2 linked regions of the Homo sapiens genome follow. The protein of the gene in region 2 interacts with the protein of the main gene of each other region in a biochemical or structural test. Each region holds a gene or a part of one and is shown on either strand. Other genes may lie near its edges. The genes, in order: EVI5 and INCENP.

Evidence for each region.
Region 1: the proteins of INCENP (region 2) and EVI5 form a complex in vitro, tested with the Homo sapiens proteins (one study listed by BioGRID).

The regions. Positions count from the first base shown.
Region 1 is NC_000001.11:92,683,787-92,699,806, reverse strand, and holds part of EVI5 (ecotropic viral integration site 5 protein homolog), read left to right. Parts: intron 1-1,821; coding exon 1,822-1,947; intron 1,948-4,353; coding exon 4,354-4,497; intron 4,498-5,418; coding exon 5,419-5,508; intron 5,509-5,907; coding exon 5,908-6,005; intron 6,006-16,020. UniProt on the Homo sapiens protein: Functions as a regulator of cell cycle progression by stabilizing the FBXO5 protein and promoting cyclin-A accumulation during interphase. May play a role in cytokinesis.
Region 2 is NC_000011.10:62,127,011-62,139,414, reverse strand, and holds part of INCENP (inner centromere protein), read right to left. Parts: intron 11,265-12,404; 5' UTR 11,254-11,264; coding exon 11,114-11,253; intron 10,646-11,113; coding exon 10,532-10,645; intron 9,634-10,531; coding exon 8,825-9,633; intron 1,584-8,824; coding exon 1,532-1,583; intron 703-1,531; coding exon 645-702; intron 528-644; coding exon 410-527; intron 1-409. UniProt on the Homo sapiens protein: Component of the chromosomal passenger complex (CPC), a complex that acts as a key regulator of mitosis.

The sequences.
Region 1 (16,020 bases), on a different chromosome or scaffold from region 2:
ATGGTGCGCCCATAAGATTATAATACCCTATTTTTACTTTGCTTTTTCTATGTTTAGATACACAAACATGTGCCATCATGTTACAGTTGGCCTACAGTATTCAGTACAGTAACATACTATACAGGTTTGTAGCCTAGGAGCAATAGGCTATATAGCATATAGCCTAGGTGTATAGTAAGCTATATGGTATAGGTTTGTGTAGGTGCACTCTATGATGTTCGCACAATGATTAAATCGCCTGAGGACATATACCTCAGTAATCTCTGTCCCCTTCCAGTGCTGTGGGAGAGAAAAGAGAAAACAACTACCTTAGGAGAGAGCCAGGTTTCAGTGTTGAAATATTCTTAGGGGAGATACAGATTTCAGCTAAAGAAAGAGAGGAACATTTGGAAAAGAGATTGAGGATATAGGTAGACTATTCTGTTGATGGTAGGATATGGGTTCCAGAAAATGCTGTGGAAAAGATTTAGGAAAGATTGGAAATGGGGTCAGATTAGGAGAACAGTAAAATCATTTAGGATGAGAGTCCTGGGATTTGGGGCTTCTCGTAGTGACTGACATAATTCAGTGGGGCTGTGGGGCTTGATAGAATTAATAGAGATAGTCTCCTAAGTAGAATTGTGGCCATCTGTGTTGAGAGGAAGGAAGAAGTGCAGGTTTTGCCAAGAGTGACTCTTGGCCCCCTGTCCGTGGCTGTGTCAAGGCCAGGAAAAATGTCTTGTTATTAGCAGCAGTCTTCAGTAAGAAGAAGGCCTGGAGATCCTTTGGGATGTTCTCTTTTGAAACACACTGGTATAACGGGAATGAATGAGAATTAGCAAATTTTATTATTTTGAGAAAGATGGTTTAACAATTTGGATAGTTATTTGCCTAAGTATTCTGAATATCTTTGTAGCTCTTTACAGAGCTTTCACATTCATTATCTTATTTGATATGATTTCCTAGTGATTTACACATAAAATGTGAAATTGGTACCTTTAAACCCCAATTTCAGATAATGTGAAAACTTAATTTATATGTCCTTTTAATACTTGTACCATGTCATATGATTTTTTGCTCAGAATCCTCAAAAATCCCTCTCTCTCACTTAAGGTAAAAGTCGAAATCCTTACAGTGGCCTCTACAGTCCTCTGCATTTTGGTTCCCTGTTATTTCTCCTCCATGATGTAACCTTCACTCATAGTATTCTAATTTAGTAGTTCTCTATTTGCTGTTTCTTGAGCATGCCAAGTGTGATTCCATTTTAGGACCTTTGTACTCTTTGGTCTTCTGGAACTGTTCTTTCCTCAAATGCTCCCTTGCTTTCTTCAGGATTCTGCTTAACTGTTACCGTATCAGGGGACCTTTCCTGATCTATATCAATAGCCGTGTGTCTCCCCAGCATTCCCTACTTTATTTTATTTCTGTAGCATCCATCACCATCTGACATATATATTAGTTGATTTATTCCATGTCTTGTCTGTCTCCCTCCATTAGAAATTCAGGTTCCTTGAGAATAGAGATTGTGTTTATTTTGTTCACTGGTGTATACCCAGAGAGAGAAAAGTATCTGGCTGTAAATCAGTATTTTGGGTTGAATTAATGAATGAGGCAAGTTGAGGCAGTTGGTTTCAGAGGTTGTAAGATTTGTTTAACTTCTCATTCTTGGTGATAGAATGGGAGACTAGAACTTTCTGATTCTTACCTCATTGCTCTTAACATTGCAGCACACAGCCACTCAAACAATGTTTGTGGTTGGCTGTGTACTTAGTTTAAATATCATTGGTTTATTTGTGTATCAGAGAACATTAACCTATGTTGTTTTTTTTTCTTCCAATGTAGATGCCAGAAGAAGAAGCTTTCTGTGTATTTGTTAAATTAATGCAAGATTATAGACTTCGTGAACTTTTTAAACCAAGTATGGCAGAATTGGGCCTTTGTATGTACCAGTTTGAATGTATGATACAGGTAAAAGTGCAGTGTTGATAAAAAGGCATATTGCCTTTATATTTTTTATATCTTGTTCTGAGTGCCAACTAAGCAAATTTAATGTTAAAAGCATTAAAGCACTTGAAGAAGTAAGTGTTTTAATTACATGATTGTTTTTTGGTTGGTTAATGTACAATTTGACCCTTCAAATTAGGTAGATCACAGTCTAGGACTTGACTCCAGTTTTCATATTCAATCCTTAAGCATTTCTGCCAAATGTACTATACACCCCTTACCTAAGCACATGAATTTCCTTATTATATCCTATTATTGTTACGTAGTCTAAGCTCTCTTACAGGAGCTTTATGATATTACACTGACATCAGTCCATTTACTTGGAGACTGTCTCTTTGAGTCCTCTCCTCTGCCTTTTTACTTTTATTTTATTTTTATTTTTTGCTAGCCCGTAATTTTTTTTCCTGTAATGTTTTCTTATGTTGCTAGTTTAAGACTCAAGTTATCTAGTGACTGTATGAAGGTGGAGAGAATAGGAGCAGAATCAAAATCAAGGGAAAAATACCTTTGAAGTATTTTACCTTTCTGGATTTAATTTTTATATTTTATATATTTAAGTTTGCTATAATGTAAATATTTTCATTTATTTCAATTTCAATTTCAATTAAATGAGCAGAATTTAAGAAAATAGGTGAATGAATCAGCTGGCATGAGAGCCATTTTTATTAGTTTCCTCTCTCCTGGCAGCCTTATAAACTCCAGTTTTTCCCATCTGTGGTGGGAGCAAGGGGATATGTAAAATGTTCTTATATTTTATTTTTTATTTATTCATTTATTTATTTTTGAGATGGAGTCTCGCTCTGTGGCCCAGGCTGGAGTGCAGTGGCGTGGTGTCGGCTCACTGCAAGCTCCGCCTCCTGGGTTCATGCCATTCTCCTGCCTCAGTCTCCCAAGTAGCTGGGACTACAGGTGCCTGCCACCACGCCCAGCTAATTTTTTGTATTTTTTTAGTAGAGATGGGGTTTCACCATGTTAGCCAGGATGGTCTCGATCTCCTGACCTCATGAACCGCCCGCCTTGGCCTTCCAAAGTGCTGGGATCACAGGCGTGAGCCACCGCTGTGCCTGGCTAATTTTTTAATTGACATACAATAGTTGTACATTATGGGGTACATATTTTTTGTTTTTATATATTTTAAAGAAAAAGCCAGAATAGGTTTTGAGATGATTTTTTTTTTTTTCCTGAGACAGAGTCTATCTAGCTCTGTTGTCCAGGCTGAAGTACAATGACACAATCACAGTTCACTGCCGCCTTGACCTCCTGGGTTCAAGCCATCCTCCTCCCTCAGCCTCCTGGATAGCTGAAACTACAGGTGTATACCACTGCACCTGAATAGTTTTTTATCTATTTTGATTTTTTATTTTTTAATTTTTGTAGAGACAGGGTTTCACTCTGTTGTCCAGGTTGGTGTTGAACTCCTGAGCTCAAGTGATCTTCCTATCTCAGCCTCCCAAAGTGCTGGGATTACAGGCATGAGCCACTGTGCCTGGACTTGAGATGATTCTTAATTAATTCTTTTCTGAAATAGTAAGCTTGTTTTTAGCAGCCTTAAACTCTCTTAATGTTATATTTTCAATTAATGTGTCATTTATGGCTGGACGCAGTGGCCCATGTTTGTAATCCCAGCACTTTAGGAGGCTGAGGTGGACAGGTCACTTGAGCCCAGGAGTTTGAGACCAGCCTGGGCAACATGGCAAAACCTTGCCTCTACTAAAAATAAAAAAAATTGGCTGGGCATGGTGGTGTGCACCTGTAGTACCAGCTGCCTGGGAGGCTGAGATGGGAGGATTGCTTGAGCTTGGGAGGCAGAGGTTGCAGTGAGCCAAGATCACACCACTGTACCCTAGCCTGGGTGACAGAGTGAGACCCCATCTCAAAAAAAAAAAAAAGTCTCATTTATGTTTTGAATTACTAGAGTTGCTGAAACATCTGTATTTTGAATATTTTTCCTATTCTTTAGGAAGGTAAGAATGGGTGATCAGTGGTAGATAGTGCCTGAAAGTATTTTAACATACCATTTATTTTCTTTTTAAACGTCTTTTTAAAATATTATAGTTGATAGAAGAGTATAGAAAATGTCAGTCACTCTTGTATCCACCAACAGGATTAAACAAATATAAAACTTTTATTCAGTTTCTTTTTATTAATAAATTAAATGTTATACTCAAAATTCCAACTTCACATTCTTTCCCCCTTCTTTCTTTCCTAGATACTAGCCACTGTCCCAGATGTTTCAATGTCTATGTCTTACCTTTTCCATATGATGCTTGATCTAATCTGTGTTTGGTATAGGCTAATCTAGTATAAATATAATCTAATTTAAAATACTCAGTTTTACTGTGTTATAACTAATTATTTTCTTCTCTTTAGGAGCATCTTCCAGAGCTCTTTGTACATTTTCAATCTCAGAGTTTTCATACCTCAATGTATGCATCATCCTGGTTTCTGACTATCTTTCTTACAACTTTTCCACTACCAATTGCAACAAGGATATTTGATATCTTTATGTCTGAGGTAAGCTAATGGGCAGACAAAGAGCAGGAGCTGAGCAAAGGGGTCACTGAGTTAGTGAGAGCAGGGCAATGAGGAGAGCAATGAAGGAAAGCCATGTGTCCCATGCAAAACTGCTTACATGGATAATCTCATTTAAACCTTATAATAACCCTATCAGGTAGATACTGTTTTTATTGCATTTGTTAGATGATAGATGAGGAAGTTGAGACTTAGAGAAAGGTTAAGTAGCTTGTCTATGGACACACAATACATAAGTGGTGTTGTAACCAGGATTCAAACATAGGCAGTTTGGAGCCTACACTGTTAATCATACCTCTTTATCACCTCCTAACTCATACAGTGAAAGTTAGTGAGAGGTAAAATTTGTCTTACAGTTAATATTGTTGAAATGCATCTGTCATCCAAAGAGTAAGAAGTAATAAGCATGTTTCTTCTATGAACACATTGCAGGTTGTTGTCCTTTTGTCAGTAGCACATAGAGGTAATCCTTTGTTTTCTAGTCTGTGAACTCAATGTTGTTATTAATTACATCTTGGGAAAATCAATTTGTATTACCTATCTAAATTAGTTCAGATCACAGTTGGTCAGCTGTGATTCATGTACCAATCAGATGGACAGATTTTTGTGCGAAATCCATTCTTCCACACCTGTTTTTTATAAAGTTTTCCTAGAACACAACCCTGCCCATTTATTTATATGTCGTGTATGTCTGCTTTAGGGTTGTAGTGGCAGAACTGAGTAATTTTGACAGACAATATAGCCCACCAAACCTAAAATACTTGCTTTCTGACTCTTGACAGAAAATGTTTGCCAGCCCCTAGTTTAGATCCCTAAATGTTTACCTTAGTATTATTTCAAATGACTCGTTTTTGTTGATGGAAGAGTAACATAAATTTGGATTTATTTAATTTGTTTCCTCAGGGTTTAGAAATAGTGTTTCGTGTAGGATTAGCACTTCTTCAGATGAATCAGGCAGAACTGATGCAACTTGACATGGAAGGGATGTTACAGGTAAGTTCATAATTTATTTTCTTTTTTTTTTTTTGAGACAGAGTTTAGTTCTGTTGCCCAGGCTGGAGTGCAGTGGCGTGATCTTGGCTCACTGCAACCTCTGCCTCCCAGGTTCAAGTGATCCTCCTACCGCTTCAGCCTTCTGTGTAGCTGGAATTACAAGCATGCACCACTACACCTGGCTAAGTTTTGTATTTTTAGTAGAAACAGGGTTTCATCATGTTGGCCAGGCTGGTCTTGAACTCCTGACCTGAAGTGATCCGCCTGCCTTGGCCTCCCAAAATGCTGAGATTACAAGCATGAGCCACCACGCCCAGCCCATAATTTCTTGAATGTCTTTGGATTTCACTATTAACAGCACTAAGTCATTCTTATGTTTTTTTTTTAATTGTATCTTAGCACTTTCAAAAGGTCATTCCACATCAGTTTGATGGTGTCCCAGACAAGCTAATCCAAGCAGCTTACCAAGTCAAATACAATTCAAAAAAAATGAAAAAGTAAGTATTTTATATTTTTGTTGGAAATTCAGTGGAAGTTGCAAAACATTCTAGTGATACAGTTTTCCTCCTTAGGTTATAGAACTATATTATTTTCTTCGGTGGTATTGGTTTCAATATAGCATAAAGCTAATGTTGGAATATACTGCTTTTAACAGTGGTGCATGGGACTAGCATGTACTACCTTTAAAACTTTCCTCCTTTTCCACGTTGACTAGAATTAGGAGCCTGGAATGGATATACATATATGAGGATGCTGTTATTTTTAAAACCACTTTTCTGGTGTGGTCCCATTCATTGACATTCTTTTCCTCTTAGTTTGACCCCACAGTGTCACTTAAGTTCAAAATTAGCATAACCAGCAAGATAGACATGAGGTATGGATTGAGAACTTAAAATTTTATTTATTTATTTTAGAGACAGGCTTTTGCTCTGTCACCCAGGCTGGAGTACAGTGGTGTGATTATGGCTGCTCACTGTAGCCTTGAAATCCTAGGCTCAAGTGATCCTCCCACATCAGCTTCCTGAGTACAGGAAGTACCCTGTCTCTACTAAAGCACAGGTGTACTACAGGCGCACACCACCATGCCTGGCTAATTTTAAAATTTGTTTTGTAGAGACAGAGTGTCACTATGTTGCCCAGGCTGGTCTCGAACCCCTGGGCTCAAGTGATCCTCCCACCTCAGCCTCCTAAAATGTTGGGATTACAGGTGTGAGCCGCTGCACCTGGTCAAATCTTATTTTTTGTACTACTTTCTAATGAAGCTTTTTTTGGCATTCATGTCCTAAAAGTTCAAAATAAAGTCTCTGCTCATTAGTTTTATTTTTGAAACAGATTAAGTGTATTAATTAAAATAATAGCTGTGATTTCTCTAGCTTCCAGTACTTAATTCTTAGCCTGCGGTCATAGTTAGCATTTCTGATACTGTACTTTCTATGGTATAAAATGCTTTAAAATGATAACAGTACTGTATGCTAGCAGTTAGCAGTTTTTCTGCTGCAATATGAAATTACATTAACATGTACAACATACTACTCCCATGGATATTCCTACTCCACAAAGTATATTTAAATATGAGTGAGAATTAATGTTATTAAAATTAGTTAGCTTTTCCATGCACAATGATGTGTACCTGTAGTCCCAGCTACTCCGGAGGCTGAGGCAGGAGGATTGCTTGAGCTCAGGAGTTCACAATCAGCCTAGGTAACATAGTGATACCTTATCTCTTTTAAAAAAATTAAAAAGTTAGCTCTAATTGACAAAAGCAAGCCAAGCCGATTTTTGAGCTTCAGCTTTTATTAAGTTACTTGTGATGTTTTAAATAACCACCATCATGTTGATACGTTTTAAATAACTACCATGTGTGGAGACATCATATAGACAAAAAGCCGCTGTGCCTTGTAACTGATAAAAACAAATTATCTCAATTTTTGTCACTTGGTAAAACCACATTGAACTCACACTAGCCAGGCAGAGAATTTATTTGACTTTAAAAGTCTGATAGAGAATGAGGTTCCTTAACCTTCTTGGTAACTAATTCTCCTTGCATAGATCTTGTCATATGTACAATCCATTTCTGAAATTTCAATTAATCCTGTTTACTTATCAGATTTCTGGCCCTCTATTTCTTTCACTTCCTTATTCGTGCTCTCCCCATTCTGCTTTATCAAGATCTCTAGATTGAGGTTTAAAAGCCTTCTTCTGATATGAACAACTGTGCTTCCTCTGCCCTTTTGTTTCCTGTATTCATGTATCCAATTGTTATTGCATAGTTACTGAGATTGCTGACAGTAAATTATGTTTCCAGTGGCCTTCCATGTATATTTATATTGACTTTGATTAATTATCTCATTCCTCACAGTGGTTACTTCAAACCTTACCATTCTTCCCAAACTCCCATCCCCTTTTTGCTATATGTAACTCTCACCAGATTACCTTATTCCTAATTCAGCAGTCATTTCCAAACTTCCTAAACTTGCTGTCTTCCAGCTTGTAGACTTAGCTATGTTCTTTTTCTTCTCTTTTTAGAATACAGTATTTTTTTTTCCTTTATAATGCTAATTCAGAATACGTGATGTTACTCATTTCCATCTCTTCCAGGTCTTTGCTCCATTAATTATTCCTTCTCTATCTTCAACCTCTCTCTCTGTTGTTTCATTTTCTTCAATCTAAGAAGATAATTTTGAGTTCTGACTTAGAAGCAACAAAACAAAACCTTCCTCAACATAGCATTTCATTTTCCTTTTATGAAGCTTAGCTGTGAAGGAAAGAATAGATTTTACTCATTAGCTACAGATCACATTCTATTTGCTTTTTTTCACTTGGGAAAATTTTCAGACATAACAAAAATAGAATAATAAATATCCATTGCTTATTGTCTGTATTTAACAACTGTTAATATTTTGTCATATTTATTTTTTTCAAAGTATTTCAAAGTAAATATTGTTAATATTTTGTCATATTTATTTTTTTCAAAGTAAAGCTCAGAAATTGTGACACTTCACTCTTTAATACATCAGTATTCATGTCCATAAAGTAATTTGCCTCATTTACCACATTGCTTCCACCACTTAACAGTAGTTCCATAATACTGCCTAATACTCAGTCTATGTTCACATTTCCTCAGTTGTGCCAAAAATGTCTTTGCCATTGATTTCATTGTATTCAGTTGTTCACTTACATTTTTAAAAATTTAGATCAGCACCACCTATTCCAATCTTCTTTTTTAATATATTGGCTTGTTGAAGAGACCAAGTCAGTTATACCGAGAATATCCAACCTGAAGGATTCATCTGATTATTTCCTTGTTATCTCATTTAACTTCTGTATCTCTTGTGTTTTCTATAAACTGGGAGCTAATGTGAAGACTTAATCTAATTAAGTGCAAACATTTCTGACAAGAATACTTAATAGGTGATACCATGTACTTTATTCATCTTAAAAGATGCATAATGTCTGTCTCACTGTTATTAGAGATGCCATGATTGGTGACTAGGTTAAGGTAATGACAGATTTCTTTATTATGAGGTTATGTTTTCCCTCTTGGCACCCAGTAAGTACTTTGTAAGTTGATACTTTGGCATTGTAAGAATATCCAGTTCATTATGACCTTCCACCTCTTGGCTCAGTCTGCTCAAAAGTTATTATTGAGGGCCAGGCACAGTGGCTCACACCTATAATCCCAGTACTTTGGGAGGCCGAGGTAGGCAGATCACTTGAGGCCAGGAATTCAAGACCAGCCTGGGCAACGTGGTGAAATCCTGACTGTATAGAAAAAAAAAAGACCAAAAATTAGCCAGGTATGGTGGTGTACACCTTTAGTTCCAGCTACTCAAGATACTAAGTTGGGAGAATCACTTGAGAAGTCTAGGATGCAGTGAACTGTGATTGCGTCACTGTACTTCAGCCTTGGCAATAGAGTGAGACCCTGTCTCCAAAAAAAAAAAAAAAGTATCATTGGGGATACTTTTCATGTTAAATTATTTCATTTAGGATAACAAAAGCATGATTTTAAAAATGTTATTCTTCTTACATTTATCAGTCAGCTTTCTTCATAACCTTTTCTTCTTTAACTGCAGCTAACTTCATTCTACTGGAAACACATATAAACACTTCATTATTTCAGCCAGGCGTGGTGGCTCACACCCACAATACCAGCACTTTGGGAGGCCCAGGCAAGAGGATTGCTTGAGCCTGGGAGTTTGAGACCAGCCTGGGCAACATAGCGAGACCCCATCTCTGCAATAAATAAAATAAGCTAACCAGGTGCCTGTAGTCCTGGCTTTTCCATAGGCTGAGGTGGGAAGATTGCTTGAGTCTGGAGTTGGAGGCTGCAGTGAGCTGTGATCACAGCACTGCACTCCAGCCTGGGTGACAGAGTGAGACCCTCTCTCTTAAACAAAACAAAACAACTTTATTATTCCCTTTAATTACCAATTTCCAGAGAAAAGAGTTAGTGGGAATGGTGTTCTTTTAAATTAGTCTATTCTTTTGCAGGTGGCATTATTAACGAATTACAGCCTATATTCAGAATGTTTTAAGGTTGCAAAGTAAGCTGTGTTCAACATCACAAAATTTTGCCAAAGTGACACTAATCTATAGTCTAACCCGGCAGTGTAAGAGTTCTTATTGTGGCCACGTGCAGTGGTTTAACATCTGTAGTCCTTTCACTTCAGGAGGCTGAGGCAGGCAGATTGTTTGAGCCTAGGAGTTTGAGACCAGCCCAGGCAACATGGTGAAACTTTGTCTCTACAAAAAAATAGAAAAATTAGCTGGATGTGGTGGCGCCAGCACACCTGTGGTCCCAGCTACTCAAGAAGCCAAGGTGGGAGGATCACTTGAGCCTGGGCGGTCCTGGCTGCAGTGATCCATGATTGTGCCACTACACTCCAGCCTGAGTGACAGAGTGAGACCCTGTCTAAAAAAAAAGTCTCATTGTTCTACTTTGTCATCAGTGCTTGGTTATTCTTAATTTTTGCCAATCTACTTAATTTTTACCAGTAGCAGGGGGCATTATTAAGGACTTACAGGTTTATATTCAGAATGTTTTAAGGTTGCAAAGTAAGCTGTGTTCAGCATCACAGAATTTTGCCAAAGTGACACTAATTTGTAGTCTAACCCAGCAGTGTATGTGTTCTCATTGTGGCCAGTATAAAATGTCTCATTTTCCACTTAATTTACATTTCCTTGATTGTTAATAAGACTAAGCATCTTTTCATATGTTTATTGGCCTCATGTTTTTCTTCTATTTTTTTCCTCCCTTTTTTACTGCAGTGTCTACTTCATACTGCTTTGACTTGTTAGTGGTTACTAGTTGTTTATGATCTGGGTTGTAATCTTTTGTCAGCATTAAAAGATAAGTCTTGTCCATTTCTACTAAGTATCAGTTTTGGAATATATAATAAACTCAACAATTGGACCTACCTCTCAAAAATGCTCAAGCTTCCTGTTGGTTGGAGGGTAGCAGCACAGAAAAGTAAATGGCTTGTTAGATGCAAATATGTAACAGATTATTAAAATTATATGTTAGAGATACCTAACCCGTATGTCTTCAGACTGGCATACACAGACTGCTGGGTGTCAGGAAAATGTTCAGAGCTTGGTTAAGTAGACTTTCAATTTCTATCTATAGTCTTTCCTACAATTTATCTTTCTGATAACATTTCTGTAGTAGAGGTGCCTCGGTTCTTCTTCGCACCTTCCTTTTTACAGCATGCCTTCTCCCACTTTATTAAAGGAAGGAAGGAAAACCTGTCACCCAACCTAGATCTTACTATGGTACCTTACTTTAGTTTATAAAAAATCTCTGTGGCTCCAAACAAAATGAACAATTTCAGAATGACTTGCTCCTGAGGGAGTATCCCCTGAGAGAGCATCCCCTGAGAGAGCAAAGCAAGAAAAATGGAAGTTTTCTTTATTATTATTATTATACTTTAAGTTCTAGGGTACATGTGCACAACGTACAGGTTTTGTTCAGCTCCCACCTATGAGTGAGAGCATGCGGTGTTTGGTTTTCTGTCCTTGTGATAGTTTGTGTAGAATCATGGTTTCCAGCTTCATCCATGTCCCTGCAAAGGACATGAACCCATCCTTTTTTATGGATGCATAGTATTCCATGGTGTATATGCGCCACATTTTCTTAATCCAGTCTATCATTGATGGACATTTGGGTTGGTTCCAAGTCTTTGCTATTGTAAATAGTGCCGCAATAAATATACATGTGCATGTGTCTTTATAATAGCATAATTTATAATCCTTTGGGTATATACCCAGTAATGGGATTGCTGGATCAAATGGTATTTCTAGTTCTAGATCCTTGAGGAATTGCCACACTGCCTTCCACAATGGTTGAACTAATTTACACTCCCACCAACAGTGTAAGCGTTCCTATTTCTTCACATCCTCTCCAGCATCTGTTGTTTCCTGACTTTTTAATGATCACCATCTAACTGGCATGAGATGGTATCTCATTGTGGTTTTGATTTGCATTCTGTGATGACCAGTGGTGATGAGCATTTTATCACATGTCTGTTGGCTGCATAAATGTCTTCTTTTGAGAAGTATTTGTTCATATCCTTGGCCCACTTTTTGATGGAGTTGTCTTTTTCTTGTAAATTTGTTTAAGTTCTTTGTAGATGCTGGATATTAGCCCTTTGTCAGATGGGTAGATTGCAAAGATTTTCTCCCATTCTTTAGGTTGCCTGTTCACTCTGGTGATAGTTTCTTCTGCTGTGCAGAAGCTCTTTAGTTTAATTAGATCCCATTTGTCAATTTTGGCTTTTGTTGCCATTGCTTTTGGTGTTTTAGTCATGAAGTCTTTGCCCATGCCTATGTCCTGAATGGTACTGCCTAGGTTTTCTTCTAGGGTTTTTATGGTTTTAGGTCTAACATTTAAGTCTTTAATCCATCTTGAATTAATTTTTGTATAAGGTGTGAGGAAGGGATCCAGTTTCAGCTTTCTACATATAGCTAGCCAGTTTTCCCAGCATCATTTATTAAATAGGGAATCTTTTTCCCATTTTTTGTTTTTGTCAGGTTTGTCAAAGAGCAGATGGTTGTAGATGTGTGGTGTTATTTCTGAGGCCTCTGTTCTGTTCCATTGGTCTATATATCTGTTTTGGTACCAGTACCATGCTGTTTTGGTTACTGTAGCCTTGTAGTATAGTTTGAAGTCAGGTAGCGTGATGCCTCCAGCTTTGTTCTTTTTGCTTAGGATTGTTTCGGCAATGTGGGCTCTTTTTTGGTTCCATATGAACTTTAAAGTAGTTTTTTCTAATTCTGTGAAGAAAACCAGTGGTAGCTTGATGGGGATGGCATTTAATCTATAAATTACCTTGGGCAGTATGGCCATTTTCATGATATTGATTCTTCCAATCCATGAGCATGGAATGTTCTTCCGTTTGTTTGTGTCCTCTTATTTCATTGAGCAGTGATTTGTAGTTCTCCTTGAAGAGGTCCTTCACATCCCTTGTAAGTTGTATTCCCAGGTATTTTATTCTCTTTGTAGTAATTGTGAATGGGAGTTCACTCATGATTTGGCTGTTTGTCTATTATTGGTGTATAGAAATACTTGTGATTTTTGCACATTGATTTTGTATCCTGAGACTTTGCTGAAGTTGTTTATCAGCTTAAGGAGATTTTGCACTGAGATGATGGGGTTTTCTAAATATCCAACCATGTCATCTGCAAACAGGGACAATTTGACTTCCTCTTTTCCTAACTGAATACCCTGTATTTCTTTCTCTTGCCTGATTGCCCTGGCCAGAACTTCCAACACTATGTTGAATAGGAGTGGTGAGAGAGGGCATCCTTGCCTTGTGCAGGTTTTCAAAGGGAATGCTTCCAGCTTTTGCCCATTCAGTATGATATTGGCTATGGGTTTGTCATAAATAGCTCATTATTTTGAGATACGTTCCATCAATACCTAGTTTATTGAGAGTTTTTAGCATGAAGGCTGTTGACTTTTGTCAAAGGCCTTTTCTGCATCTATTGAGATAATCATGTGGTTTTTGTCGTTGGTTCTGTTTACGTGGTGGATTATGTTTATTGATTTTCGTATGTTGAAGCAGCCTTGCATCCCAGGGATGAAGCCAACTTGATCATGGTGGATAAGCTTTTTGATGTGCTGCTGTATTCGGTTTGCCAATATTTTATTGAGGATTTTCACATCAGTGTTCATCGGGGTATTGGCCTAAAATTCTCTTTTTTTGTTGTGTCTCTACCAGGCTTTGGTATCAGGATGATGCTAGCCTCATAAAATGAGCTAAGGTGGATTCCCTCTTTTTCTGTTGATTGAAATGGTTTCGGAAGGAATGGTGCAAGCTCCTTTTTGTACCTCTGGAAGAATTTGACTGTGAATCCATCAGGTCCTGGACTTTTTTTGGTTGGTAGGCTGTTGATTATTGCCTCAATTTCAGAACCTGTTAATTGGTCTATTCAGGGATTCTACTTCTTCCTGGTTTAGTCTTGGGAGGGTGTATGTTTCCAGGATTTTATCCATTTCTTCTAGATTTTCTAGTTTATTTGCACAGAGGTATTTATAGTATTCTCTGATGGTTGTTTATTTCTGTGGGATCGGTGGTGATATCCCCTTTATCATTTTTTATTGCATCTATTTGATTCTTCCCTCTTTCCTTCTTTATTAGTGTTGCTAGTGGTCTATTTTGTTAATCTCTTCAAAACACCAGCTCCTGAATTCATTGATTTTTTGAAGGGATTTTTGTGTCTCTATTTCCTTCAGTTCTGCTCTGATCTTAGTTATTTCTTGCCTTCTGCTAGCTTTTGAATGTGTTTGCTCTTGCTTCTCTAGTTCTTTTAATTGTGATGTTAGTGTGTCAATTTTAGATCTTTTCTGCTTTCTCTTGTGGGCATTTAGTGCTATAAATTTCCCTCTACACACTGCTTTAAATGTGTCCCAGAGATTCTGGTACATTGTGTTTGTTCTCACTGGTTTCAAAGAACATCTTTATTTCTGCCTTCATTTTGTTATGTACCCAGTAGTCACTCAGGAGCAGGTTGTTCAGTTTCCATATAGTTGTGCGTTTTGAGTGAGTTTCTGAATCCTGAGTTCTAATTTAATTGCACTGTTGTCTGAGAGACCGTTTGTTGTGATTTCTGTTCTTTTACATTTGCTGAGGAGTGCTTTACTTCCAACTATGTGGTCAATTTTGGAATAAGTGCCATGTGGTGCTGAGAAGAATGTATATTCTGTTGATTTGGGGTGGATAGTTCTGTAGATATCTAGTAGGTCTGCTTGGTCCAGAGCTGAGTTCAAGTCCTGGATATCCTTGTTAACCTTCTGTCTTGTTGATCTGTCTAGTATTGACAGTGGGGTGTTAAAGTCTCCCATTATTATTGTGTAGGAGTCTAAGTCTCTTTGTAGGTCTCTCAGGACTTGCTTTATGAATCTGGGTGCTCTTGTATTGGGTGCATGTATATTTAGGATAGTTAGCTCTTCTTGTTGAATTGATCCCTTTACCATTATGTAGTGACCTTCTTTGTCTGTTTTTATCTTTGTTGGTTTAAAGTTTGTTTTATCAGAGACTAGGATTGCAACCCATGCTTTTTTTTTTGCTTTCCAATTGCTTGGTAGATCTTCCTCCATCCCTTTACTTTGAGCCTATGTGTGTCTTTGCACGTGAGGTGGGTCTCCTGAATACAGCACACTGATGGGTCTTGACTCTTTATCTAATTTGCCAGTCTGTGTCTTTTAATTGGAGCATTTAGCCCATTTACATTTAAGGTTAATATTGTTATGTTTGAATTTGACCCCGTCATTGTGATGTTAGCTGGTTATTTTGCCCATTAATTGATTCAGTTTCTTCACAGTGTCACTGGTCTTTACAATTTGTCATGTTTTTGCAGTGGCTGGCACCAGTTGTTCTTTTCCATGTTTAGTGCTTCCTTCAGGAGCTCTTGTAAGGCAGGCCTGGTGGTGACAAAATCTCTCAGCATTTCTGTGTCTGTAAAGAATTTTATTTCTCCTTCACTTCTGAAGCTTAGTTTGGCTGGATATGAGATTCTGGGTTGAAAATTCTTTTCTTTAAGAATGTTGAATATTGGCCCCCAATCTCTTCTGGCTTGTAGGGTTTCTGCCTAGAGATCCGCTGTTAGTCTGATGGGCTTCCCTTTGTGGGTAACCCGACCTTTCTCTGTGGCTGCCCTTAACATTTTTTCCTTCATTTCAACCTTGGTGAATCTGACATTTATGTGTCTTGGGATTGCTCTTCTCGAGGAGTATCTTTGTGGTGTTCTCTGTTTTTCCTCAATTTGAATGTTGTCCTGCCTTGCTAGGTTAGGGAAGTTCTTTTGGATAATATCGTGAAGAGTGTTTTCTAACTTGGTTCCATTGTCCCCATCACTTTCTGGTACAACAATCAAATGTATATTTGGTCTTTTCACATACTCCCATATTTCTTGGAGTCTTTGTTCATTTCTTTTCACTCTTTTTTTCTCTCATCTTGTCTTTTCGTTTTATTTCATTAATTTCATCTTCAGTCACTTTCTTCCACTTGA
Region 2 (12,404 bases):
ACAAGGATGGACATACAAAGGTCAGAAAGGAGCTGGCGGGGGAGGCAAAGCAGGAGGCCAGGTGGGGTGTTCAATCCCCAGCCCACAGCTCTTCCCACTGGCCCCTGGAGTCAAGGTCAAGGCCTTGACCTGGCCTCTTCATATCCATACCCCGATGCAGCCCCTTCCTCTGCTTCCTGTCCCAACCAGCCACAGCCCCCCATGCTGCACTCAGTGACAGCTCCAGCCCAACGGTGGGAGGTGAAGTCTACAGACTCAAAAGGGATCTCTGCACCCCCAGGTTTAATTTCTCTTTAGCCTACTGGCCCAGAAAATGGGGCTTCCTTATCCCCAGAGAGAAGGTCAGGCCGAGGCCGCCAAGGCCCGCTGTGGCTCCGGGCACTGCACACGGCAGGTCAGGAAGCCTCACCTTGCTGCCCTGCAGAGGGTGTTTCCGGGCTGCTGGCTGCAGGCTTCGGGTTGGGTGTGCTGTTGGCAATCTCCGTGTCATTGTGGGGCCACGAGTTATTTCCATTGTTCTCAGGGACCTGTGGAAAGAACCAAGGCTTTAGGGGTCTTGACCTGGAACCCAAGGCCCAGGATGGCCGTAGTGCAGAGCGGGAGCCCCAGAGGTGAGTCCTCCCTTCCCCAGGCAGCCGTCTTACCTCTGGCTCAGCTGCCGCCACAGGCTCAGCCTCCTCGGGGGGTTCCTTCTGCTCAGAACTGAAAACAGAAGAGGGACTCTGAGGGGACTGCCCAGCTAGTCCAAGCCCTCCCCCTAGGGAGTCCCTCTACCATTCCAGGGATGGGGACCCAAGAGGTCAACACAAGGTGCCCTGGCCAGGGCCACGAACCCACAGCCCCCTGTAGGATAGGAGGATGGCAGCTCCCGGCAATGGCTCCATGGACAGACGAGGGATGTCAGCTTCAGAATGTGGCTTCATCTCCCTGGCACCCCACCACAGAGCTGTCTCAGGATGTGAGCCCTGTCCTCAGCTCCGCCTCCACCTCTTGGGCCCAGGTGAGCTGCATCTCTTTTGTGGTCTGTTCTCTATTCACCATGGGGCTGGCAAGGCCAGCAGGTCTGCCCTGTCACCCTGTTTCCCCGTCCCAAGAACAAACCCTCTGCTCTGCAGCAAGGAGGGAGGGGGCTGGTTTTAGTGATGGCAGGACACGGCCTCCAGGAAAAGGAGTCTGTGTCCTGGCCCGAAGCAGCACTGGGTGTAATCCTGGAGCACTCCTATCCTACCCCAGCCAGTTTGAATGTAGCTCTTCCTGGCAGCCCCGCCTCACCCCCAACCTCTGGAGCCCACGCCCCAGGGTCAGGTCTAGCCAGGCAACCAGCAACGCTGACGGGTGCTGCAAGGAGACCAGGTGGCCAACACCCACATCACTCACTGCCTGGTCAGACAGGGAAAACGGGGCAGCTCCTGGGCGGTCAAGGCTCAGTGGGGAAGACTCAGCCCAGGAATTGCTTCCAGCCCTGGTGCTCACCTTGGCTCCCTGTCCTGGTATGCCCTGCCTACCTCCGAAGCCCTGGAACTGAACTCACCCAACTTTCTGGGGCACCTCAACATTCAGGAGCCTCTCCAGGTAACTGTGACCTGAGGGGGAAAAGAAAGGCACAAAAGATCTCATCAGAGACCACACAGGTCCCACTCTAAGGGGTCCAGGGGACCGGGTTCCAGCAAGGGCCTGGCCACTGCTCCCATCACTAGCCGTGGAGCCCCCACCATGCCCAGGACCCTCCCCTCAGCACTCATACTAGTGTCCTTATCGGAGCTGCTGGCTTCATGTCCCCGGCTGCTTCCCAGATGGTCTTCCCATGCCCATCTGAGAGCACGGCTGGGCACCTTCACTGGGCTGGGAATATCTCGAGAAGAGGGACAATGTTTGCTGCAGCTCCAGGCCCCAAACTCCCAGCATGGGGCCCAACACAAAGCAGCTTATTCTGTCAACAAATATTCATCAAGTGTCTACAGTGTACTGGGACCTGGGCCAGGCCCCAGGACCCCAATGGTGAGCAAAACAGAACCACCATCTGGTCTAGATAACAATCATCAAATAGTCCTATCAACAACACCAGCATGGGCAATGGTGGAACAGAGCAGAGAAATTTTTTTTCTTTTTTTTGAGACGGAGTCTTGCTCTGTTGCCCAGGCTGGTGTGTAGTGGAACAATCTCAGCTCACTGCAACCACTGCCTCCTGGGTTCAAGCGACTTCCGGCTAATTTTTGTATTTTTAATAGAGACAGGGTTTCACCATGTTGGCCAGTCTGGTCTCGAACTCCTGACCTCAAGTGATCCACCCGCCTCGGCCTCCCAAAGTGCTGGGATTACAGGCGTGAGCCACTGCGCCTGGTCCAGAGCAGAGAATTTTAAAAGCCTATGATGGGGGGACCTGAGCTGGCCTGGAGGAGTTTACAAAGGAGGAGGATGTCCAGGCCAGTGGTTCTCAGCTTGCATCCTCTGACCCTTGGACGTCCTTGAGACCCATGGGGGATCCACGAGGTCGTAACTAATCATGATACTAAAATTATGATACTAAAATGTTACTTTCCCTTTCACTATGTTGACATTTGCCCTGATGGCACAAAAGCAATGAGGAACTAGCTGCTGAAGCCTCAGCCCCAGTCAAGGCCAGAGCATCAAACACTATCCTCGGACCACACACTCACGGGAAGGAGAGATGTCCAGTTTCACTGAGGAATGTCCTTGATGAAGGTGTAAAAAGTACTAATTTTTTTTCTTTTTTTGAGACAGACTCTCACTCTGTCACTCAGGCTGAATGCAGTGGCGCAATCTCAGCTCACTGCAACCTCCACCTCATGGGTTCAAGGGATTCTGGTGCCTCAGCCTCCCAAGTAGCTGGAATTACAGGCATGTACCATCACACCCAGCTAATTTTTTATATTTTTAGTAGAGATAGGGTTTCGCTATGTTGGCCAGGCTGGTCTTGAACTCGTCCTCAAGTGAACCACCTGCCTCAGCCTCCCAAAGTGCTGGGATTACAGGCGTGAGCCACTGCGCCTGCAAAAGTCCTAATTTTACTAAATCTAAACTCAAGTACATGCCATTCTACTCTTCTGTGTGCTGAGGTGGGAAGTGTGCACAATGCCTGTTGCTGCAAACCCAACTCTCTGTGAAAAGCGCTCGTCTCTAAGCTGCCAGCTGCACTAGCCACTTTTTCACCTGAACCACTATTATTAATTAAAAGAACGACTGACAATGGTTATTCAGTCTTGGGTATCTGGAAGACATTTTTTCACAAGTCAATGAAGTGAATCCATCACAAAAATAAAACACCACGTGCTGACAATAATTTAAAAATTGGGCCAAGGCCGGGTGCGGTGGCTCACGCCTGTAATCCCAGCACTTTGGGAGGCCGAGGCGGGCGGATCACTAGGTCAGGAGATCGAGACCACGGTGAAACCCCGTCTCTAGTAGAAATACAAAAAATTAGCCGGGCGTAGTGGTGGGCGCCTGTAGTCCCAGCTACTCGGGAGGCTGAGGCAGGAGAATGGCGTGAACCCGGGAGGCGGAGCTTGCAGTGAGCTGAGATTGTGCCACTGCACTCCAGCCTGGGCAACAGAGCAAGACTCCATCTCAAAAAGAAAAAAAAAATTGAGCCAAAACGAATCCAAGAGTAGAATTTTGAAAAGCGCGTATCCACCACCAGCAGGGTCACAGCATCCTAATATCTAAGGACTTTTCTGATGAGGTCAGAAAACAAATGTGCTTTTTTAGGATATTATATAATGAAGGGTGTCAACACTTGGAAGACGTGCATAACTTGGTGAAACAATATTTTCGAAATGATCGATGTATGTGGTTATGAAATCAGACACATCTAAAAGATCCATTCAAAGTGTGGCCAGTTGTGGTGGCTCACGCCTGTAATCCCAGCACTTTGGGAAGCCGAGGCAGACGGATGATTTGAGGTCAGGAGTTTGAGACCAGCCTGGCAACATGGTGAAACCCCGTCTCTACTGAAAAGACAAAAATTATCCGGGCGTCGGTGGGCACCTGTAATCCCAGCTACTCGGGAGGCTGAGGCAAGAGAATCACTTGAACCGGGAGGCAGAGGTTGCAGTGAGCTGAGATCGCACCACTGCACTCCAGCCTGGGCGACAGAGTGAGATTTCATCTCAAAAACAAAACAAAACAAAAAAAAACAAAACAAAGTGCAAGGTAGACCCGTGTGGAATCAGCAACATGGTTTCAGATTCCACACCACAACAAACCTTTAAGAACTACCACTTCTTGCGCTGGTCCTGATAACAAAGAATATGCATAATTATCTGAAAAAGCTATGAAGATACTCCTCCCTTTCCCAACTACACGTCTATGTGAGGCCAGATGTTCTTTAGCTACTTTTTTTTTTTGAGACAGAGTCTCACTGTATCACCCAGGCTGGAGTGAAGTGGCGTGAATTCAGCTCACTGTAACCTCCACCTCCCGGTTTCAAGCAATCCTCCTGCCTCAGCTTCCTGAGTAGCTGGGACTACAGGCACGTGCCACCACGCCCAGATAATTTTTTGTATTTTCAGTAGAGACAGGGTTTCACCATGTTGGCCAAGACAGTCTCAATCTCTTAACCTCATGATCTGCCCACCTCGGCCTCCCAATGTGCTGGGATTACAGGTGTGAGCCACCTCGCCCGTCCAGTTCTTCAGTTACTTTAACCCAAACAACACAATGCAACAACAGATCAAACGCAGAATGTGGCTTATTTAAAGTCATACAATAAAGAGATTTGCAAAATGTAGAATAATGCCAGTGTCTTCAGTACATTTTTGTTTTGGAAAAGTTATTTTTTCATAAAAAGTCTTAATGTAAACAGGTGATAGGCTTGGTACTTGCATTTTATAATGTTAAAATATTAAACAATATTTTTAAATCTTTAAAGTACTAAATATTCATATAAAAATATTAATATTTAAAATACTTTTAAACTCCTCAGTTTTAATTTTTAATACAGTAACGATCAATAGATATAACCTCATAATCAAAGCTTTTTTTTTTTTTTTTTTAACAGAGTCTCACTCTGTCTGGAGTGCAGTGGCACAATCTCAGCTCAGTGCAGCCTCGACCTCCTGGGTTCAAGCAATCCTCCCACCTCAGCCTCCTGAGTAGCTGGGACTACAGGCACATGCCACCATACCTGGCTAATTTTTTCCATTTTGGTAGAGATAGGGTCTGGCCATGTTGTCCAGGCTGTCAAAAGCTTTTTGAGGCTGAGGCTTAATCATTAAAAACAGGAAGCCCAGGTCCCTCACCCTCAGCACTCACCCTGGTATCCTCACCACAGCTGCTAGCTTTATGTCCCCGGCTTCTTCCTAGCTGGGAGCATGCCTGTTCCCAGTGCCACTGGTCTAGGGAGAAGGAGGGCCAAGGCCATGAGGCAGGAAAAAAAGAGGCTTTTTTGGGGAACAGAGAGAAGGTAGCTGAGCTGGCGCATCCTGAGCCATGGGGGCTTGGTCAGAGTTCAGGCTGGGAGGTGGCCAGCGGGAGGTTGGGGTGCACAGGGTCTCAGGAAAAGAGGGAAGACAGCAGGCCAGGCACAGAGAAGGGAAGCCAGGACCCTTCCTGGGTATAGCAGCCAGGTTTGGGGAGGTGGTGGGAGCAGCTGCAGCGCCGGGCTGACAGTCATGGGTGGTGATGACCCCCATTTAAGGGGTTTATACCCAGAAGATACATCCTCCTCATCTCCCCATGCTGTGTCATCCCAGCTCACGTGCTCCCTGATGAAGACGCCCATGTGACTACATGGCTCTCCCACCAGCACAAGCATTCTCTGGAATGCTAAGTGCCATCTGCACGACATTCAGGCCTCAGAGCTGGTCTGGTGGTAGGGAAGTGGCCTAAGCACTGGCAGAGGGATGGAAGGACTGTTCTCCAATGCAGAGGTGGCTCGAACGCCCCAAGGTGGAGTCCTGAGGCAGTGGGCCTGTCCCTTCCTATCCACTTCAGAACTGCTGCCCGATGGGCCCCGCAGGCACGTGCGCACCAGGCCAGGAGGCAGGGGATTCCTGCTGACACACAGCAGTTCCACGCCCCGGGGCCACACTCTGGCTTCCAGAAGCCCCCTCCACCCACGCTGACTGCTGGCTTTTTTTCCTATCTCATTTTTCCATTCCTCTGGTGCAGGTGTTTCCTTCCCATCCCGAATTTAATTTTTGGGAAATTAAATTTGTTAATTTCCCAAAAATTAACAAATTGAACTCAAATCCTTGTGTCAAGGGCTGCTCGTGGGGAACACCCAAACCAAGACCCCACCTTGGAGCTGCCCGAGAGCCTCTCCCAGAGCCTGGTATCAGGAAGACCCCCAGGAAGCCTCCTCCCCTGTCACCGCCCCACTCCCTGACACCCTTGCAGCTCCTCACTAGGGGTCGGCCTTGTCGCACCCAAACTGAGCATCAGCCATTGGTGAGTTTTCTCAAATAAGATGTACTGAGTATCCACTACACTCAAGCACTAAGATGAGTTATCTATTCACATTCAAAGCAAGTGTTATCACCATTTCACAGAAAAGCTGAGGTTGAGAGAAGGGGTGTGCCCAAGGTCACCCAGGGTCTGTGTGACTCCAGATCCTAGATCCTGTATCCTCCTCTCTCTCCTCCACCCCCTCAAGAGGAGAGATGATGCTGGGCTGGGAGTCAGACAGACCCAGGTAACATGCACCAGTCAAATCAGAAGCCCATTCATGGGCAGGGAAAGGGTAGACAGAGAGGGAAGAGTGATGGAAGGGCATGAGAGCTGCAGATCTGGATGTCTGCTCCAAAGGTCTCCAGAGATTCTCTGCAACCCTGCCTGGCCCTCCCTCTACAGGCCCAGGCTCACCTGCCCCCGCTTGAAGCCCCTTCCCAAGATCAGATCCAGGCCTGAGAAAATCTCCAAAACAGATCAGAACCATTTAGATCCTTCTGAGAATCCAGAAATAGACAGTGTGGCAGACTGCACATCTGCACACGCCCCAGAGTATGTCACCCCAAACCCTGGAGCAGGCCCGTCCCCAGGCAGTGTGACTCAGGCAGAGAGAAAGCTGCCAAGGTGAGGTGCCCTCCCCTGCCTGACAGGCCCTGCCCTGCGGCCTTGCACAAAGCCTCTTCTGCAAGCACCTGACTTTCTGGACAGAATGAAACACACAGCGCTCAAGCCCCAGCTTCCCGATTTACAGACTCCATGGCCTCCTTAAGCCTCAGTTTCCTCCTCTGTAAAGTGAAAAATTCCTCACAAGCTAACAATGCTGCTGTAAGGACCAAATGAAATAACCTTTCATTTTATAAATCTTAAAGTGCCAGGCAGATGCCAGCTACTATTTAACATGCGTTGAGATAAAACCTGGGCTGGGCGCAGTAGCTCACACTTGTAATCCCGGCACTTTGGGAGGCTAAGGCGGGTGAATCACTTGAGGTCAGGAGTTCGAAACCAGCCTGGCCAACATGGTGAAACCCCATCTCTACTAAAAAACAAAAACACAAAAATTAGCCTGGTGTGATGGCGGGCGCTTGTAATCCCTGCTACTCGGGAGACTGAGGCAGGAGAATTGCTTGAACCTGAGATGCATGCAGAGGTTGCAGTGAGCCGAGATCGTGCCATTGCACTCCAGCCTGGGCAACAGAGCGAGACTCTGTATCAAAAAAAAAAAAAGATAAATCCTGGCCTATCCTCGCCACCAATCCGCTGCTTTGCCCGTCCTCTGCCTGCATCCTTACAGCAGCCTCCTATCTGGTCTCCCTGTTTCCCTCACTTTCCCATCATCAAGCCACTTCTTTTGCTTCAGTGGGGTCAAGTTCAAGCTCTTGTGTGAGCATGAGCCCCAGACACCCATCACTTGTTGCTTTAGGCATCAGGGTCTTCGTACAAGCTGTTCCCTCTGCCAATAACACATATCCCCGCATTTTTTTTCCACTCAGCAAAAGCGCAGCCATCCTTCAGAACCCTCCCAGCTCAGATTCACCTCCTCATGCAGCCAGCCTGCCCCTCCAGACACCTGCTCCAGTGGGCAATGGCCCCCTAAGCTGAGATCTGAGAGAGCAGCTAACATTACCGAGTCCTTCCTATATGCCAGGCACCCTTCTAAACTCCCTGTGTGGGGTGACCAAAGAAAACCTCACAACGACCCTTTGAAGTGACGCGATTAGCCCCAGTTGACAGGCAAGGAGTGGAGGCCCGTGAAGTTTCCAGGACCTGCCCCAGGCTGCAGGGTGGGTGAATGGCTGAGTTGGCACTCAGACCCAGGCCGGCCAGCTCCAGAGTCAGCTTGGTTCCCCCTCCTGGCTCCCATCAGATGCCCAGTCATCTGATCTCCCCGAAGGAGCCTGCTGCCATAATTCCCTCCTCCAGATCAAACACAGTGTCGCCAATAGGCGGCGCGCAAACCCGGTGAATTTAAGTGGCCTCTGCAGCATAGGGTTGGGAGGAATGAGCTGGCCCTGCGGAAGAGGCCCAGGCTCCAGCCTCAACATGGCCAGTAACCACAGCCACACAGTGGCCGACCTTCCCGAAGCTCAGTTTCCTCACTTGTAAAGCAAGTAGGTTGGGTCAGACCTGCACCATCCAACGTGGAAGCCACTAGCTACATGTAACTATTTAAATCTAAAAGAAGTAGAATGCAATACAATTTAAAATTCAGTTCCTCAATCACACTAGCCACATTTTGAGGACACAATCGCCAGATGAGGCCAGCTAGCGGCCACCATCCCAGGACAGCACAGATGTGTAACATCTACCTCACTGCAGAAAGCTCTCTGGACAGCTCCTTGCTAGATGATCCCTCAGAAAGCCTCCATCTGAGCCTGGCACCAAGGACCACCCGCCACTGCCAAGCCCCCAGACTCACAGATGATGCGGCCAGAGGCAGCTGGCTCTTCGGCAGTCTTCTTGGCAAGCCTTCTGCTCGCCCTGCGGACAACACTTTCCTGTTTGGCCACCAGAGAGTACTTCTGGGCTAAGACTTGGGGACTCGGGGAAGACGGGGCGATCGGGCTGTGCCGCACCGATTGAGAGTCCGTGCGAGAGCCCGTGGGCGTGGAGAAGTTATCCGGCAGGATGGGAGCCAGCACCCGCTCCCGCCATGGAGAATCTGGAAAGGCTGGCGAGTCCCGTGGGCCAGGGGAGACCTGCGCAATCCTGAGCTTAGACGCAGACCGCCCCGTCCCGACCCCTTGACCCTTGGGGTCCTGGGGTGTAGCCATCAGGGAGCTCACTGTGATGGACTCCAGTATCCTGGCCTTCGACTTCTTAGGTGTTGATTCCTCATCTGATGTCGGGATGCCCTGGGAGGTTGGAGCTGTGGCTGAAGCTGGAGTCGGGGACAGAGTGCGGGGCAGAGGCTCGGTGGACATGAGCTGGGTGACATGCTGCTCAGCATTCTGGCGCTCACTGATGCCGATCTCCACCACAGGCACCAGCTGGCACTGGGTGTGGTTATCCTCGGGCTTCTTAGTCAGCATCGTGGGAGACTCAGGGGTGGGTGAAGAAGGTGCAGCCAATGCCATGGTAGCCGCGGCAGCTGCAGCCGCAGCACGGGTCACACGCCGCAGGACGGAGCCGTTCTCCCCGACCACTGTAGCCAGCTTCTCTACACTGTCCTTGCTGCGGAGGCGTCGGGAGCTCAGCTGGCTGCTCCGAGACTTTCTGCGGGATAACCTGGCAGGGGCAGCAGGGCAGAGGCTGAGACGGGCAGCAGGACAGGGTGGCACCCAGTCTCTCCAAGAGCCACCAGCTTGGATAGAGTATGATAAGAGAAGGTGAAGGCAAAAGATCTGGGTTCCAGGCCAGATTCTGCCACCTCTAGCCATGAGGCCCCAGGCCATTCTTGTCTGAGCCGCAGTCTTCCTAACTGTAAATTGGGGATCATGCCACAGTCCGCACAGAACTGGCTAGGAAGATTATATTCATCCAAACCTCCGGCTGACTGAAGTTACACCACACCGAGCCCCTGCTGAAAGCCTTACACACGCTCTGCCTTAATCCAGAGCACGCCCTTGAGAGGCAGAGACCACTATCCCCATTTTAGGGATGAGGAACGGAGGCTCAGAGAGGCAGAAATTCAATTCAAAGCCGTACTGCTCTGCTAAGGGGCAGAGCTGGGGTTCACACCCAAGCCTAACCCCAAGACCCAGCCTCTTTCCCTAGCACTCTGCAGCCCCAATCATTCCTGAGGGGGACTAAAACAAGCATGACAATATGACGGCTGGGACAAGGCACGTGGTCTACACCCCTGGTCACACTCACCTAACAGAAGGATGGCTTCTCTTTCTCATCCCACCTACGGAAATCTTTCCCATTCTCCAGGGCCCAGATCAAACACACCCACCCCCAACACACAGCCACAGATTTGGACTCCAGGGTCTTGGGTCAAGCTATAGTTCCCTGTGGCATCCCAACCCCTCTCAGCATGGCCCACGCAGTACCCGCGGTGGTACCCACCACCCCTCCTACAGGCTGCTACTTCCAAATCAACACCTTCAGAATCAAACTCCCAGATGGCACCAAGCCTCCGCAGAGCCCACTGCTCAGCTCACTCTCCCCCAACCCCTCCTACCTTCTCCTGATGGGATCTCTGTTTTCATCCTGAACATAAGAAATCCGTCTCTTCTTCCGTCGGTTCTTCTGAGAAGGTGTTTTGGGCATCAGCTCTGGCTCTTTGCTGAATTCTCTGTTTGGCACAAGGAGGGTGTCACTCGAGGCTGCCTGGGAACCACTGGTCCCCTCTCCCACCCAGCCTGGCCCCTGCCCATTTCCTGGCAGCGACAGGTCAAGCTGGGGTGTCCAGCACCAAGTGAGCTCTCCAAGGCCATGTGCAAGTCACCTGCGGGCACTCAGGGCTTCCTCCTGGAGACACGGCAGGGAAGCAAGCTCCCAGGCGCACGTCCATTGCCACATACCCTGAGAGGCCCAGCCAGCAACGATGGCGAATAGGCAAGGGACTGGATCTCTCCTGCTGCCTCTTCCCATGACACTAGGTCAGGCCCCCAGCACACTGCACACACAGTATACAGCAGGGAGCCCTGACAGGCTGTCTGTTTTGCCAGGTAGGCGGGGACGAGGGGCTGTTGTGTCCCCAAGACCAAAGCAGCCCAGACAGGCCCTGGTGTTCCCAGCCTCTCACTGTGCCCGTCTTCACCTGGTGAACATGCGCTCGGCCTCCTCTTGGATTTCCTCAAGCCACACCAAGTCCTTATTATCCATGTTGCAGAGAAACTCCATGAGCTTCTGGTCACATAGCTCCAGCAGGTGAATGGGCCCTGGGGCCGTCGTCCCCATGGTGGCTCTGTCTGGTGAAGGCAGGGACAAGAGGCACAAGTTAGGGGCCCAGGGTAGGGGTCTGGGGCTTTCTCCAAGCTGCAATACCCACCTGACCCACAACCACCACAAACACCCAGTGCCCGAACCAGGGCCCCTCTCTGCTCACAGCCACTCCCCAGAGCTGCAGAATTCCAAACACTCATCCCCTAGCCTCATCTCTACAAAGAGAAGCCCTTCTACTCACACTCTTCAAATACCTCCCTGTCCCCACCCCCCCGCCAGCATGACTGTCCCCATAAGTCCACAGTTCCCAACCAATTCTGACATTGACAGTCCTCCTTATAAATGGCCTTTTCTGGGCTTAAGATGACAGGGCACTGCCATCTGTCTTCCTGGCCACCCCAGGGCCCCTCACTCCCTGCCCAAACACAGTCCTGCTCTCGCTCTCCAGTAGGCCCTCATCTTACTACTCATGGTTAAGTGAGGGCTAAGACACAGCCACCCTGCACTACATACAAGCTGACTCCAGACATCAGGCCAAAGAACATCAAACCCAACTGCCTCTTTAAGAGGCCAGTGAGCAGAAGAGATTCTGTGTTCCAAAGGAATGAGTGAGAAAGTAGTGATCCAGAGATATGCCCTCAAGGGGCCTCCCACAACCCTCTCCCTTGAGCTGAAATGCCCTCCAAATGGAGCATAAATAGAACAAGAAGGGAACAGTAAGCAATATCTTGCTTTTAAGAAAACTTGCCTACAAGCATTGAGCAAGAGAAAACACAAAAACAGTTTTTTCTCACTTTCTTATAAAACTAGCAGCTCAGGTATCCTCCTTAAAACTTGATAACCAGCCGGGTGCAGTGGTTCACACCCGTAATCCCAGCACTTTGGGAGGCCGAGGCAGGTAGATCACATGAGGTCAGGAGTTCAAAACCAGCCTGGCCAATGTGGTGAAACCCCAACTCTACTAGAAATACAATTAGCTGGTCATGGTGGTGTGCGCCTGTAATCCCAGCTACTTGGGAGGCTGAGCCTGGAGAATCACTTGAACTAAGGAAGTGGAGGTTGCAGTGAGCCAAGATCACACCATTGCACCCCAGCCTGGGCATCGCAGCGAGACTGTCTCAAAAAAAAAAAAACAAAACAAAAAACTTGATAGCCATTACAAAAAC